Regions from separate parts of the Homo sapiens genome. Here region 1 is linked to region 2. Evidence: fine-mapped QTL for protein levels in blood plasma. Region 2 holds a variant in brackets. A gene starts in the other region. All regions are shown on their reverse strands.

Region 1 (8,316 bases), not on the chromosome of region 2:
GGGTAGGCAAACACTTCACAGCCAAAGATCACATCCTGCCCTGTCACATTCCAAGTGTCATATGGATGTGACACGATCTGGGGCCCTGGGGGTGAAGGCGGGAGGTCTGAGAATAGCATGGCCCAGCAAAGGCATCCAGTCTGGCAAAGACATGATACACAAATTTTTGTGGACATGCTTGTGGCAGAACACAATATATGCTGAGGTAAATACACATCCATAAACACACCGTGACACACACAGGTACACACAGATATGGATGCTGGTACACACAAGGGTACCACGCAGACGTGGAGATAGGTATACATGCACATGTGCACATAGAACCTCATGCAGACCCAATGCACAAACAAGCACACACATCTACATTGTAGCTTGGCAGCCACTCTGTCCCTAACTGCTCCCCTGTCCTCATTTCACCCTCCCCAGCCTTTCCTGCGTGCCTGTAATCAAAACCTTCCAGATCCCCCTTCCCCTTTTCTAAACAGGCCCAGTTCCCAAAGGAGGAAAAGCAGCCGTTCCCTCCTCAGTACCCCCTGGGGGAGTCCTGCGGCAAGGCAGAGAACCTGAAGCTGGACTTGTGCGACAGGCAGGAAGCCTGCAGGAGTGGAGGAAATTGCTGGGACCCCCACGGGGTGTTTGTTTTCTGGCTGCCCCAGCCGAGCCAGACGCAGAGCCCGGGCTCAGGAAGTGAAAGTTACTAAAGCTACCAAGGAAAGCTAGAGGCCTGAATGGACCCCAGTCCCCAGGGATAGAGAAAGAACTTCCCGCTCCCCTTCACTAATCCCTAAAAGCAGGAGAAAGCAGAGAGGTGGGGAGACTGGGTGAACAAACTGCTCTAAGAATGAAACGTGATTGCATCTCACAGGAACCCGTCTTGCTGCCTGGACTCCACTGGTCTGGGAAAAGTCGGGGGGGTCTCTGAGCAAACCATAGGTTATGTGCCTGCGCCCTCAGAGGACCTGTCTCTCCCTGCCAGCCAGCTCTGGAGCTTTCACGTGGTTCAGCGAATGCAGCTTGCTGACGAAGCCCGGGACTCCCACTCCACTCCACCCCCCACCCCCACCTTAAGGTGGCAGCTTTTATGAACCAGTAGCGAGAGCAGGGTTTTATACTGGACTCGAGGCCTCTATAGCCTTATCTTTTTTGCTCTGCTGGCCAGAGACCAATGCTGTCAGGGGTCGGGGAGCAGTGCCTCTAGGAAACCTAAGTGCTGGGGTGGGGGCCCCGGGCCATGCGTACCCGATTCGCAGGGCCCCGGGTGTGCCACAGTGAGGTTGGCATCGGGCCGAGCGCGGGCCGCCTCCTGCAGGCGGCAGATCTGGGAGTAGGTGTGACCGTCGGACCCGCAGAGCGGACTCTGCGAACGACAGGCACACAGAGGTTCCGGCACCTCTCCGCGGCTCAGGTCGCCGCCTGTGTCCAGCCGGCACTCAAGCTGCTCGCCGCAGTGCCCGTAGAAGTGAGCACTGGGGTCCAGGTCGCAGAGCTGGCCCTCGAGGTTGGCGCATTCCCAGCAGCAGCCGCACGCGTCGCGCACCCTGCCCGCCAGGCAGCCCCGCGGCGCGGCGCACTCTTCTGGCCGGCAGGGAGCGCAGCCCTCGCCCTCCGCTAGCAGCCGCATCCAGCCGCGCCGCAGGTAATCTGGGCCTGGGGATGGCCTTGCGCCGGTCGGGGGCGGCGTCAGCACCACCAGCAGTAGCAGGAGCACAGGCAGCGCCAAGGCAGCTGCGGGCCGCGGCGGCGGCAGCATGGTTAGCGGGAAGCCCTGCGAGCACTCGGGGCATCAGCGCGTTCGGGCACCCTGCCAGGAAGGGAAGCCAGGTCAGGAGGTCAGAAACAGGGCCTGTGCCGAAAGACCAACCTCACTGCTTCTTGTACCAAAGCATGACACTAGCATCGCCCCCTCCCCTGCTACCAAGTAGCCTCCCCCAACACACAGGCCTAGTGACCCTCTAGGGATTATCCAGTTATGGCAGTTAGCAATCAGTTGGGCTGTTCTTGGGAGGGCTGGGAGTGAAGAGAGGTGAGGAAAGGGTGATAAGGCTCAGGCGCACGCACACCCACCACCAGCACCACTTCCGTGCACCACCCGACTCCGATCCCTGGCCCCTGAGCATCCTTGCCCAAAGAGAATGGGTGGCTCCAGAAGTAAGAAGCTGCTAATGGGGGGTGAGAACTGGGGGGGCTGATGCCGCCTCGCTTATGGCCTGGGGCACAGAGTGCTCACCTAGTGTCCGGAACTAGACCCTTCGCAGCAGCCGTGATTCGAGTCCGAAAGAAAAGGTTATGGAAAGAAAGCAGAGGCGCAGTCAGCCGGGCCCGCCGGCCACCTCTGCTCCGTCCTGAGGACTTCTGAGAGAGCCCACGAACTTGGATTCAGAAAGCAGCTCCTCCGGCCCCCTCTCTCCGCCCCTCGACTTCGCGCACCCGCCTTCCCACTAGTTCTAAGGCTGCCAATTTTATGTAGCCGCATGGGACCCTCCCGGGTCATTTCCCCCAGCCTGGCCCAAAGTCACAATGCGAGCAGAGGAGCCGTAACCAGACACCGAGGCTGGGAGAGAGGAAGGGGGTGAGGACCGGAGGCGGGGAGTGGGGGTAGGAGTTTGGCTGGGAAGCTCAAAGTGTTGGCTGAACGGCTAGGCCCTGTCCCATCTGATTTTACAGTCCCTGGCGTCGGCGAGGGCAGCTGCATAAGGGGGAGGCGGCAGGAGCTCTGGTGCCAAGTCATTTTACGTCGATGTCGGGGCGCTCCTGGAGGGCAGGACCAACCACCTTCGTCTCCCCGCAGCCCAGGGCTGGTTCCCGGGAGCGACCGCAGGCTTGCCCACCCAGCTGCCCCACCAAGGCGCGGACAGACTGGGCGCCTACATCCGCCTTCCCTCATCTGGCCTCCTTCTTCCTCCCCACATCCGGCAGGTGCTGCGACCCGCGGGTGAGCCGGGTGATTCGAGGTCGGAGCCGACCAGCGGCCGCAGGGAGAGGCGGGCTGGCGCCTCCCCGGCGGGCGTCCCTCGGGTCGGGATTACAGGTTACGGTTGCGAGGCTGGCAGGGCCGGAGACACTCGGCCTCGCGGCCGCCACCACCGCCACCGTGGCACTTTGGGCCGGGGGCGGGGAGGAGAGCATTCCTAGGGGCCCGCCAGCCAAACCCGGGTCGGGCAGGCCCCGCCCCGGCCGGCCCCAAGCGGCTCACAGAAGCCTTGGCGCAGTCCAGCTCGCGGGGGGATGGGCGAGGGTGGGGGGCAGAAATAGCAATCTGCAGCCGGCAAGGGGGCGGCACTTAGTCAGGCTCCGCCCACAAGACCCGGCTGCCGTCCCCGCCCGCCTGCGCGGGATCGACTCCGCATGCGCACTGGAGCCTCGGAATACAGCCAGGACTCTCCCGTCGGAATGCGCCCCTAAGTTGGGCCAAGCCCATTCATTCAGGGGCTCCCGAGCCACGTAGGCGCCATCCCTGGCCAGAGGGGTTCTGAGGAGGTGGGCAAGGGCAGACACTCTCTCCCGGTCTCAAATTCGAAATAGGGACTAGAAGGGAACTTCACGCGAGGCCTCGCAACTGTCGCGAGAATCAGAACAGGAAATCTAGGAACCGAGAACACTAAGAGCCCGCGGATTTTAAACAGGAAAAAGAAAGGGCGGAGCAAACTCTGGCGGATAGTTGTGAGTAATCCCTGGTCCTTGGAATAAGTGTCGACCTGAGACAGAAGGGGAACTGTCAGAGAGCTGCCGGAGACCCTGAAAAAGGCCAGAGACGGGGACTTGTGGGGCTGACGAATGGAATCACCCAAGGAGAGGTCTCTGACTCTAACAAAACACCTTGGGGACGGAGCTCCTTGGCTGGGATACAGAGCAGACAAGTCCGGGATCTTTTAGTGAATTGCTGCCGGCTTCTAAGGCCTGGAGCAGATATTCAACAACAAACTCCACGGACCTAGAAACTCTCCACTTATCCTACTATTGTAGACGGTGGCTTACTTTTAGTCTTCCCTATGCTCTAAGCTTCTGGTAGTAGGAATCGTGCCTAACTCACTACTGTATCTTGTGAACCTAGCCCCGCGCCTGGTGGCACGTCAAATTCTCGGTAAATATTTGTGGATTAAATGTGAAAGACTGCCTGAGTGTTTAACCTGGATTTTCTGAGTCGCTGATGGAGAACAGTAGGTAGACGGGGAACCAGCGCCCTCTGGTGGGCTTGTGGTTCGTGACGAGAACATGCTGGAACCGTGCATCCAGGTAGGCACAAAGATAATAAAAGGGGATCCGCTGTTATTAAGTAGAGATTTTGTTACATTAAAACCCTACATACCGTAAAAATGCTTTTAGAAGGGAGTTTTTTGAATAGGACACAACTTGAAAGTTTAGATACATTCCCCGATCCTCAACATCCCATACTTTATCCATCAAGGCTCCAAAATATTCAGTAACACCTATGCGCATCATACATAGTAAAGAGATAGCAAATGATTTTGCGTATATATACTTTGAAAATGTTTACTCGGTTTTGTGCAAAACAGGCCAAAGGGAAGGGATTTTCTAGCCTAGATGATGTGAATACTGCTAGGGAGAGGAGCCAGGTGGCAGCATCCTTTGCATTTAATGAGGGAGACTAGATCCAGATGGGCAGGGTGAAGTTGAAATTTGTTGAATAATAGATGGTCCCGCCTCTTTTTTCCCCTTTTCCTGCAGATGCTTGTATTGAAGAAGGAATGAGGTATAGAATGTAGTTTTCTTTCCACTGTGAAGCCCTGTGTTCACAAGATTATCATACGTTCACTTTCAGTCACTGACACATGAAATAACTGAAGTATAATGACAGAATGATGAGCTGGAGTGTGGTGGTGCACGCCTGTAGCACCAGCTACTTGGGAGACTGAGGCAGTAGGATCCCTTGAGCTCAAGGGTTCGAGAGACCATGTCTCTTTAAAAATAGAAGTTTAGGGCCAGGCGTGGTGGCTCATACCTCTTAATCCCAGCACTTTGGGAGGCGGAGGCGGGTGGATCACCTGAGGTCAGGAGCTTGAGACCAGCCTGGTCAATATGGTGAAACCCTGTCTCTACTAAAAATACAAAAATTAGCCCAGCGTGGTGGTGCACGCCTGTAATCCCAGCTACTCAGGAGGCTGAGGCAGGAGAATCGCTTGAATCTGGGAGGCAGAGGTTGCAGTGAGCCCAGATCACGCCACTGCACTCCAGCCTGGGTGACAGAGCAAGACCCCCTCTCAAAAAATAAAAATAAAAAATAGAATTTTAAAAATAAAAGAGTGAAAAGAGCCCTATACAGATGAACAACAAAAGATGAAACAAGGCATACAGTCATTGTTTAATTTGGTAAAGAAAAGAAATTACTTCAAATGATCCACATATTTCAACCTGTCACTTCACAAACCCTGTTTTGACACAGCTGGTGAAAATAGTAGAGTTGCAACTTTGAGGAAGAAGCAGGAATGAAACAAATGGTCCATACTGACCTATTAAAGACGGATATGGAGAAATTGTGCTTCCTGTGAATATTAGAATTGGTTGATTAAAAAAAAAACCTCAACATAGATAATTAAAATGGAATACTTTGTAGCTACCAACTATGACAAATAGGTAAACTCAAAATAATGTATGTAGGAAACAAAGTGAAAAGTATGTATGGAAAAATAAGGTTAAGAGAAAAGAAGAAGTATATGGATACTGATCACAACTGTATGTGTATTTATCATCTATATCATCAATAAACATCCTAAGAGAATTTGGAATGAGGCTAATGGTTGAGTGTAATACTCACTACTGCTTTATAAGTTATTTTTCCTTTTTTTTTTTTTTTTTTTTGAGACAGAGTCTAGCTTTATCGCCCAGGCTGGAGTACAGTGGCGCAATCTCAGCTCACTGCAACCTCGGCCTCCCGGGTTCAAGCGATCCTCCTACCTCAGCCTCCTGAGTAGCCACCTGGCTAATTTTTTTTTTTTTTTTTTTTTTTTTTTAAGTAGAGACAGGGTTTTGTCATGTTGGCCAGGCTGGTCTTGAACTCCTGACCTCAAGTGATCTGCTCACCTTGGCTTCCTAGTAGAGGCTATTTTTATAGGTAAATTAGAATGTCAAGATAAATGTAGCAAAGCTGGGGTGGCCAGGTAAAAAGATTGGCTGGGCACAGTGGTTCATGCCTGTAATCCCAGCCCTTTGGGAGACCAAGGTGGGCGGATCACCTGAGGTCAGGAGTTCGAGACCAGCCTGGCCAACATGGCAAAACCCCATCTCTATTAAAAATACAAAAATTAGCTGGTTATGGTGGCGCATGCGTATAATCCCAGCTACTTGGGAGGCTGAGACAGTAGAATCGCTTGAACCCAGGAGGCGGAGGTTGCAGTGAACCGAGATCGCGCCACCACGCCAACCTAGGTGACAGAGCAAAACTCCATCTCAAAAAAAACAAGAAAAGAAAAGAAAAAGGAAAACATAATTCAGCTATAAGTAGTGTTACAAAATGAAGACTGGAATAGCCAGGAACTGGCTTTCTGGAATACCTAGGCATTAAGGCAAGTTGAATAAGCTTCAGGACATCTAAATCAGGCCTCAGTCTACCTTCGTATATCTCAAAAGGCAATCCCTCCCCCTAACACCCACCTTCAGTATCCCATTGACCCTTGAAATGGTGACTGTAGCTCCATCCAACCTGATGACTTGGCCAAATGTTATATTGATAAACTTAGAAAAGATGCTTAAATCATTCCACATGTACATTGTTTCTACATTTCTATTTCTTTCTTTCTTTTTTTTTTTGAGACAGAGTTTCACTGTTGTTGCCCAGGCTGGAGTGCAATGGCACAATCTCGGCTCACTGCAACCTCCACTTTCCACGTTCAAGCAATTCTCCTGCCTCAGCCTCCCGTGTAGCTGGGATTATAGGCATGCACCACCATGCTAGGCTAATTTTGTATGTTTAGTAGAGACAGTGTTTCACCACGTTGGTCAGGCTGGTCTTGAACTGACCTTAAGTGATCCACCCACCTCGGCCTCGCAAAGTGCTGGGATTACAGACGTGAGCCACCGCGCCTGGCCCTTTCTACATTTCTTGTTCTCATTTTGTTTTTAACTTAATTTCATTATGAAGTATAATAGACAAGCAGAAAAGTGCACAAAGTAGATATATGGTTAAATTAATTATTACTAAATGAACACTTGTGATTATCCAGGTCAAGAAACAGAACATTGCCAACACCCTCAGAAGCCCCCATCATGCCCCTCCCCGATAATTTTCCCTCCTCTTCTCCCTAGATAACCATTTTTTTGTTTGTTTTTTTGATTTGTTTGTTTGTTTTTGTTGAGACATGGTCTTTCTCTGTTGCCCAGGCTAGAGTGCAGTGGCGTGATCATGGTTTGTTGCAGTCTCAAAGTCCTGGGTTCAAAGGATCCTTCCACGTCAGCCTCCCAAGTAGCTGGGACTACAGGCACACCACCACACCTAGCTAATTTTTTTATTTTTATTTTTGCAGAGACAAAGTCTTACTATGTTATCCAGGCTGGTGTGGAACTCCTGACCTCAAGCAGTCCTCCCACCTCAGCCTCCCAAATTGCTGGGATTATAGATGTGAACCACTGTGCCTGGCCAATAACCACCTTTAACTCTATACTTTAAGTTTACCTGGTTTTGACATTTATAGAAATTGGGACATGCCTAGGATTGGAATTACTGCTTCATGTGATATGCATATTCAACATTAGTAGATTTTCTTTTCCTTCCTTCCTTCTTTCCTTCCTTCCTTCCTCCTTTCCTTCCTTCCTTTCCTTCCTTCCTTCCTTCCTTTTCTTTCTTTCCTTTTCTTTTCTTTCTTTCCTTCTTTTCTTTCTTTTTTTTTCTTTTCTTTCTCACAGGGTCTCACTCTATCTGGGCTAGTCCCAAACTCCTCGGCTTAAGCAATCCTCCCACCTCAGCCTCCCAAAATGCTGGGATTATCAACATTAGTAGATATTACCATACACTTTTTCCAGTGTGATGTATGAATTTATATAGTCTTCAGCAGTTGATGAGTTTTCATTATGCCACATCCTTGCCAAGAGTTGGTATTGTTGTTGTTCTTTTAAATTTTAGCCATTAGGTAAAAATTTTAGAGCCTAAAATTTTTAAATGGCCAGTTCTGCAAGGATTTCCTCTCTTGGATATTTTTTTAAAAACCTTTTATTTTGAATTTTAGACTTGGATAGAAGTTGTGAAAATAGCAAAGAAATTTCCCATGTACCTGTCACCTAGCCTACCCTGGTGATAACATAATATCTTATATAACCATGATATAATTATCAAAACCAGGAAATTGAAATTTATACAGTACT
Region 2 (8,278 bases):
CTGCGAGAAGACAGCCACCATCCTAAAGACCCCAGAATGGTAGATCCACAGACAGCTTGCACCGTGTGGCTGGAAAAACCACAGACACTCAATGCCAGCTGATGAAAGCAGCTGGGAGGGAGGCTGTACCCTGTAAAGCCACAGGGGCAGAGCTGCCCAAGACCATGGGAACCCACCTCTTGCATCAGCATGACCTGGATGTGAGATATGGAGTCAAAGATCATGGAGCTTTAAGATTTGACTGCCCTGTTGGATTTTGGACTTGCATGGTGCCTGTAGCCCCTTTGTTTTGGCCAATCTCTCCCATTTGGAATGAGTGTATTTACCCAATGCCTGTAACCCCATTGTATCTAGGAAGTAACTAACTTGCTTTTGATTTTACAGGCTCATAGGCAGAAGGGACTTGCCTTGTCTCAGATGAGACTTTGGACTTTGAACTTTTGAGTTAATGCTGAAATAAGTTAAGACTTTGGGGGACTGTTGGGAAGGCGTGATTGGTTTTGAAATGTGAGGACATGAGATGTGGGGAAAGCCAGGAGCAGAATGATATGGTTTGGTTCTGTTTCAACCCACATCTCATCTTGAATTCCCATGTGTTGTGGGAGGGACCCAGTGGGAAGTGATTGAATCATGGAGGCAGGTCTTTCCTGTGCTATCCTCATGATAGTGAATAAGTCTCATGAGATATGATGATTTTAAAAAGGGGAGTCTCCCTGCACAAGCTCTCTTCTCTTGTCTGCTGTCATGTAAGGCATGCCTTTCATCTTCCACCATGATTGTGAGGTCCTTCTAGCCACGTGGAACTGTAAGTCAATAAACCTCTTCCTTCTGTAAATTGCCCAGTCACAGATCTGTCCTTATCAGCAGTGTGAAAACAGACTAATACATTGGCTGAAGGCTTCTCCCACGCAATCCGACTAGATCTCCCTTCATTAGATGGTTCCAGTACATTTACCACTCCTGTGTTCACTTGAATATTTTAGGGCTCAAAAAAGGATACCCCACAGTATTGTGCCTTGGCATGCTGCGCCCCTTGAACTGAAGGAAACCAAAAGGACCTCAGAAGCAAGAACTGTCTGACCTGCTCCCACTCTTTGTCCTCCTACTCCCCTTTCTCTCCCAAGGCAAGCCATAGAAACTAGAATTCCTCTTCCAACAGGCAGGTCAGAGAAAGAGGAATCTCTCTGTCTCAAAGCAGCCATGAAACCTAAAATATGACTCTCACCTTTCATCCAGGCCTTTCTGTGTAGGAGCTGGCCATAAAATAAATTCTCTAATCTACTCTGTCTGCTAGTAGGTCCTAAGATCTGCATGCCAATTGGGTCCTGCACCATAACTGGGAGCAAGAAATGCCACAGAGAGGCCAATGGAGAACTCCAACTGAAGGCCTTGTGGGGTTTCCCCGATAGTCTATTACTATCATATCTTTTCTTTTTTGTTGGATCACGCTGCTGTCCAGTCTTCATGGAATCTAAGCTTAGCAATGGGCAGTTGTCCCTTGGGTCTTTGGGCCTTCATTCTGAAGGCTCTCATGTTATAGAAACTTGGATTAAATAAATATGCTCTGCTTTCTCTTGCCCACCTGTCGTTTGTTGTAGGTAAGTCAGCTGTGACCCTGAGGATGGGTGAGGAAGGGCATTGCACTTTTTGCCCCTACAGTGGATATGGTGTTTTGCATTCACCAAGCCTAAGCAACCTTTTTCATAATGTTAGACTATTCGGAGAGAGGAATTTTAAAGGTAGGTTAGAGACATGTGTTTTCCTGTAGTAAACGTGTATCTTCAAGTCTTACAAGCATAAAAGATTGAAGTTCTGTTGCTGTTAGGATCTCTTGCCAATCTAACTTGCCAACTGATTCTCCCTGGAGTCCCTGGAGAAGAAGGGGCAATAGGAGCCAGTGGGGCTATTGTAGGGGTGGGGCAGGAACATGAACTTGGCAGTAAGTCCAACCTGGATTCTAATGTAGTTCTGCCTACTTACCTAGGTGATCCCAAGGAAGACAGGGTCACATAAATGTTCTGAGGCTTAGGTTTCTCACCTGTAATGGTGGAAAATCATGATATCTTAACAGGGTGTTTCTGAGGAGTGAATGAGGTAATTATTCACTCCTGTGAATAATTCACTCCTGTGCAGGACCTGGTGATTAGTTCTTTTAAGCTATCTCTAATACTAGGGAAAGGTGTCTAAGAATCCCTGCCTGACTGAAATAGGTTCAAGTGCATAGTCATGGGAGAAGGCAGATTTTAATGGGGAGTTGTGTGGAAAATATGAAAAATGGAAGAGATTTTGTGAAGTTCTTAGGTTGAGAGGAAGGAGGAGAAGCAGAAATGTGGAAGCTGAACACTGGGAGGATGAAGAAATGCATAAGGGAGCACTGTCCAGGGGGAAGTAGACCAGAATGGTAGCGGCTGACCAGCAAGCGTTTCCAGTGAAGACTCAGAAACAGGCCTGGGCACCATCACCGGCAGTGTCATAAAGAAGACAGCATGTGGCTTTGGCGGAGGCCAATCAAGGTTCTAATTCCAGTCCCACATTTACTGACTGCGAGATCCTAAGCAAGTAATTCAGCCTCTTTGGTTCTCTTCTTTCCCTAAGAAATGGTTGATTGTACAGCCTGTTTTCCCTACCTAGGTCCCTTTCCTCCTTGGAGTACAGGCAGACTTCATTTCCCCATCTCCCTTGCATTAGGTGTGGCCATATGACTGAGTTCTAGGCAGTGAAATGTGAGCATGAATCATGCATGCACCTTCCAGGCCTGGGCCACAGAAACCACCTTCATGATCCTCCACTCTCTCCCCATGTGGGCTGGATGCAGAGGATCCAAGAGACAATTCTGAGGTCAAGGGGAGAGCAGAGCCCCCAGACAAAAGGAGCCTGGTACCCTGAATCACCATTTGGATGGCCATCTGCTGATAACCCATATTGACCTGTAACATGAAAGAGAAATCAAATTCTCCATCATTAGGCCACTTGAGTTTGTTCCAGCAACTGGCCTATTCTGATACAATGACATTTTCTGCATGAGAGAGCTGTTGGTAAAGATTAAATTACAAAATATATTAAACAACTTAATTTTAAGTTTTATTATTTATTTATTTATTTATTTGGAGACAGAGTCTTTCTCTGTTGCCCAAGTTGAAGTGCGGTCATGGAATCTTGGCTCACTGCAACCTCCGCCTCCCGGGTTCAAGTATTTCTCCCACCTCAGCCTCCATGCCCAGGTAATTTTTGTATTTTTTGGTAGAGATGGGGTTTCACCGTGTTGGCCAGTGATCCACTTGTTTCAGCCTCCCAAAGTGCTGGGATTATAGGCGTGAGCCACTGTGATCAGCCGTATCTTCAGACTCATAGTAAATGTTTAATGTACCTGCTTATTATACAAACATTTCTTAAACCCTTATTGTGTGGCAAGTGCTTTAATGAACAAAGCAGACAAAGTGTTTTCTGTTATAGCATAAATTGGGGATGAAGAAAAAGGGAAAATCAATAAATATTTCTAGCCTGAAGGATTTTAAGAATGGTATTGCCACTGACAGAAAGGCTGATGTTAGGAAGTGGGAGAGCTTTTCTGGAGAAGAATGAAGAGTTTGGGCTTTAGACATTTGAAGAGGCATTAATTATGTTGCCTCTGTGAATGTCACCTTTGAAAGTTTATGAAATATTTGTAAACAGATACTGATACACTTTTTAGCTGGGATGACATAAGAAAAGCAGCCGGGAGCGGTGGCTCACGCCTGTAATCCCAGCACTTTGGCAGGCTGAGGCAGGTGGATCATAAAGTCAGGAGTTCGAGACCAGCCTGGACAATATGGTGAAACCCTGTCTCTACTAAAAGTACAAAAATTAGCCGGGTGTGTTGGCGCAAGCCTATAGTCCCAGCTGCTCGGGAGGCTGAGGCAGGGGAATCACTTGAACCCAGGAGGTGGAGGTTACAGTGAGCTGAGATCACGCCACTGCACCCCAGCCTGGGCGACAGAGCAAGACTCTGTGAAAACAAACAAACAAACAAACAAAAAGAAGTCTAGAAAAGCATGGTGTATTGTCTAAAACCTCTAGTAGAACGTACCATCCCGAGGTGGGAATGGTTTCTTATCCCATTATTCCCTCGCAGTGTCGGGTGTGCATAGGAAGAATGCCCTTAACTGAAGTGAATTGAGAGCTTCAACTCCTCTGTATTCCAAGGAATATTTTCATTAACTCAAGCAAAGTTTATGAAAGTACTTTGTAAATTATTGAATCCTACTCCAGTGCTTCTGTGGGAGGATACATTCTGAGTTATTAACCTCTGTATCTTTTGCCCTCCATGGGTCTCACCTTTCTCCTCTCCCTGTTCAAGCAGCTGACCTGGTGTCCATGCCTCCAGGAGGAATGTGATTCTGCAGGGCCACATTCAGCTGCACCTGCCAGTGTGGTCACGCTGGTTGTTTATGGATGGTGACTGTTCTGATAGGTTGTTGTTTCTGGTCTGATTGGTCAGTGCTTGGGTCATGTTGATTATGAAATACTTTGAGTATCACTATTGCAGTTGGAAGATAGACAGAATCTGAATTCTTTTAGTTTGTTTCAAATGATTGAGTCCTGATTTGAGGAGGAAAAAGAAAGAGGAGTATAGTGTGGAAAAAGTCTTCTGGCCCTAAAAATAAATAAAGTGAACTTACCTGAGACTAGCAAGAGAGTCGTTAGCTGAGGGAGAAGGTATAGGGAGAAGAGTGAGGTAAGGGGTCTCTGAGGCAGAGGAGATCTCTGCCCTGCTTTCTGGGCATGCAGCTGGGAAGACAGCAAGATCCCAGGGAGAGAGCAGCCATATGCCATACCTTGGCAGTCATGTCCATGGCTAGTGTACAGACATTCCTGCACCCCCAGTTTTCTACAGAAGTAGCAGATAAATCAGACTGAAAGAGTGATGTGAACAGGGTTGTGACTATCCCTGAGCAGGATGGCTATCACTCATGATGATGATCATTGGTCCAACAGTCACCCTGGCTGAGGGATAGTCACTATCCTGCTTCCTACCACCTGGACAGCTTGGCATGGTGTGAGATCCTAGAACTGTGGCCCAACTTTGTGTGGAAAGTAGCAGGGCAGGGAAAGGGGACTCCAAGAAGGACTGGGGTTAAATTTCCACTAAGCCAGTAGGATGGCATCCTCAAATAGAAATTAATTTGTTCTGAGCATAAAGTGACATTTCTTATGCACCTGAATTTATGGTCATGATTCATGTTAGCAAGCTTCTTTGCAATTTATAGCCAGAGGTTTGTTTGCTTCAATACTGAATTTAGAACTTATTTTTCCAAAAGAAAATTTAGATGCCTAGTAATAATCACGAGGAGAGAATTTAGGTCACTTTAATAATAATAAATAGGGGGAGGGTGGGAAGCAGGAGAGCATTCGGAAAAAGAACTAGAGCATGCTGGGCTTAATACCTAGGTGATGGGTTGATAGGTGCAGCAAAGCACCATGGCATGCTTTTACCTATATAACAAACCTGCACACCCTGCACATGTGCCCTGGAACTTAGAAAATAAAATGAAATAAATGATAACAATAGTTTCAATACCATACTTTATTAGTATGCCCAGGTATAGCCCAAGCAGTAACAGAGACTCTAGAATTAGAGTTAAGTCCAGGAAAGAAGGAGATTCTGAGTGGCATAGATTTGTCTCAAGTGATGTAGTGGTGAGTGACAGAATTAACTACTAATAGGCAGCACTGAGTTCTTTCCTCTCCTTTCCATTTGATCTCTCTTCTCAGGCCATCTCTTTTCCCATTCACATTTTGCTGCATCTTCAGTATGAAAGTAGGTTGAAAAGAACTGTAATTTTCACAATTACTGGTCATTTTATTTATGTTTCTAATTCAATGTATTATTCATTTTCCTCTTCAAAGGAATCACATTTTATTTTGGAAATGTATGTGTAAAAAACATGGAAACTTGTGGAAACCCACTCTTGAACTTCCCTGGACATGATTCAGAGACTGATTGAGGAAAGGGCTGATTGTCTGGCTTTAGAGGATGTTTGTGGTGCGGCAATGGGAAGCTGGGAAAATTGGCCTCAGGAAGTGGCAGCACCTCACCTTTTCTTAGAGGAGGGAGTCGGTACACAGATCCAATTTGTCTGCAATGGAAGGGACGGGGTCCTTTACCTGGGCCTCGCCTTCTTAAGTGCCCAGGTGGTGGGCCGTGGCCATGGCAACAGTGACCTTGGTTATGGGGTGGTGGGTCACAAGGTCCATAGTCTTGGAAATCATGGCAGTGGGGATGGTGTCCATGGGGATGGTGTCCATGGGGGTGGTGTCCATGAGGATGGTGTCCATGGGGGTGGTGTCCATGGGGATGCTGTCTATGGGTATCATGTTCATGAGGATGGTGTGCATGGGGATGGTGTCCGTGGGGATGCTGTTCATGGGAATGATGCTTATGGGGATGGAGGTCACTGGAATTATTATTATGAGAA[T/C]GTCTTTGGGCCCCATTTGTGCCAAAAGTGGCATGTTGACAACTTGAGCAGGACATGGGCAATAGTGGAGGAGGGCCTTGTGGAAGTGGGGGTCCATGTGAGTGATCTCTTTCATCTGGAGGAGGTGGGGGTCCATGTTCGTGTGGCTTGTGGGGATGATGATGATCTCTAGATCCATGGGGCTTGAATGGAGGCTTGGTGGTAGAAGAACGCTCATGCCCACCCCAGTGGAAGGGATGTCCCAAATGAGGCGGTACACCATTGATGTTCTCATGTTCCTGGAAAAGGTCACAGAAAAGTGCCTATCATCATGTAACATAAAAGAAGATGTTAGATACTTGACTTGATTTACACCAATGGCTCCCAGATCATAGATTCCACAAATCAATTTAAAAAGTATTACGAAAAAAGATTCTCAAATTGTTATCTAGCCCAGTTGATATTTAAAATATTAACAATAACTATCATTTACCACCATCATTGTTTCACAAAAGAAACTATTTTTTTTTTCTGAGACTGAGTCTCGCTCTGTCACCCAGTCTGGAGTGCAGTGGTGCGATCTCTGCTCATTGCAACATCCACCTCTCAGGTTCAAGCAATTCTCCTGCCTCAGCCTCCCAAGTAGCTGGGACTACACGCCCAAGCCACCATGCCCACCTAATTTTTTTTTTTCTTTTTTTGAGACATAGTCTTACTCTGTTGCCCAGACTCCTAATTTTTGTATTTTTAGTAGAGACAGGTTTCACCATGTTGAACTCCTTGTTTCAAGTAATCCACCCATCTCAGCTTCCCAAAGTGCTGGGATTACAGGCATGAGCCACCATGCCCAGCCTGGAATGAAATTTTGATTTAAAAAAAAAAGAAAGAGCCAGAAACACAATATCAGAGTAAAGGATTGTCCTTTAGATGGATAAATGTTAGATATAAAAAACTTCATTATCCTTATTTTTTTTTCATTTTTACTACACAGAGTGGTGAAACAATATTATGACCTGGCACCCATCTGTAGACCAACACTGGAAAACTAGTGCCTTATAACTGATATTCTTAACTGAGGCTTGATGGTATCAACATCCCTTACTCCTAAAGGCTGAACACTTGACCTCTTCTCTCTCTTCCTTGTTCAGAGTTTAATTTTTTAAAAAATAGCTACAGAGGCCGGGCACGGTGGCTCATGTCTGTAATCCCAGAACTTTGGGAGGCTGAGGCAGGTGGATCACCTAAGGTCAGGAGTTTGAGACCAACCTGACCAACATGGAGAAACCCCTTCTCTACTAAAAATGCAAAATTAGCCAGGTATGGTGGCGCATGCCTGTAATCCTAGCTACTCAGGAGGCTGAGGCAGGAGAATCGCTTGAACCCAGGAGGCAGAGGTTGTGGTGAGCCGAGATGGCACCATTGTATTCCAGCCTGGGCAATAAGAGCAAAACTCCTTCTCAAAAAAAAAAAAAAAAAAAAAGACAGAGCCATGTTCATGGTGACAATCCTGCCCTTTGTTCCTTTTTCTTTTTTTTAACTTGGGATTGGATGTTTGGATTATTTTAAGTTTTGTTTCTGATATGAAAAATTTCGTGAAGCAAATCTTTGTACTCATGTAAAAAATAGACCAAAGATTTCTGAGACAGATGCAAAATATGGTTTTGCATCTTATTTTATATACATTTACATAATAAATTTGAGGCTGATATATTCCTCTTAGATTCTATGCCCAATAATATAAGCTTAGGAATGACTAAGTCTCAGCACTAGAGTCCCGACTACAAAGAGCATTTTCAAATTCCTTCAAGTTTGGTTGAATTGGACATGATTTTAATTTTCTGCCA

Alleles and levels. Positions count from the first base shown, and alleles are read on the strand shown. Strength reflects both the effect of a copy and how common the allele is.
For the plasma level of the protein whose gene starts at base 2,357 in region 1, T is the high allele of the variant in region 2 and C is the other (moderate association).

The links. A credible set is the group of variants that fine-mapping cannot tell apart. PIP is the posterior inclusion probability: the model's chance that the variant is causal. The UK Biobank Pharma Proteomics Project read protein levels with antibody pairs (Olink). The fine-mapping took linkage between variants from a reference panel, not from the people measured, so its PIPs are less certain.
Region 1: it holds the start of KAZALD1, and the variant in region 2 is the best candidate, but not a certain one, in a credible set for the plasma level of the KAZALD1 protein (UK Biobank, PIP 0.86).

The regions. Positions count from the first base shown.
Region 1 is chr10:101,056,030-101,064,345 of GRCh38, reverse strand. KAZALD1 (Kazal type serine peptidase inhibitor domain 1) reads right to left here and starts at 2,357. Exons shown (of 5, transcript NM_030929.5): 1 at 2,231-2,357; 2 at 1,243-1,804; 3 at 1-85. The coding sequence starts at 1,753. It overlaps LOC107984262 (a long non-coding RNA gene), which reads left to right and starts at 3,595. Exons shown (of 2, transcript XR_001747569.3): 1 at 3,595-4,236; 2 at 4,690-5,751. RefSeq lists silencers at 1,643-1,692, 2,873-3,292 and enhancers at 1,605-2,493, 3,420-3,714.
Region 2 is chr3:186,675,502-186,683,779 of GRCh38, reverse strand. It overlaps HRG (histidine rich glycoprotein), which reads right to left. Exons shown (of 7, transcript NM_000412.5): 7 at 5,546-6,733. The coding sequence ends at 5,897. Among named protein-coding and RNA genes, the nearest start is that of HRG, 14 kb to the right of the region's middle. The variant T/C (reference allele first, on the strand shown) is at 6,456.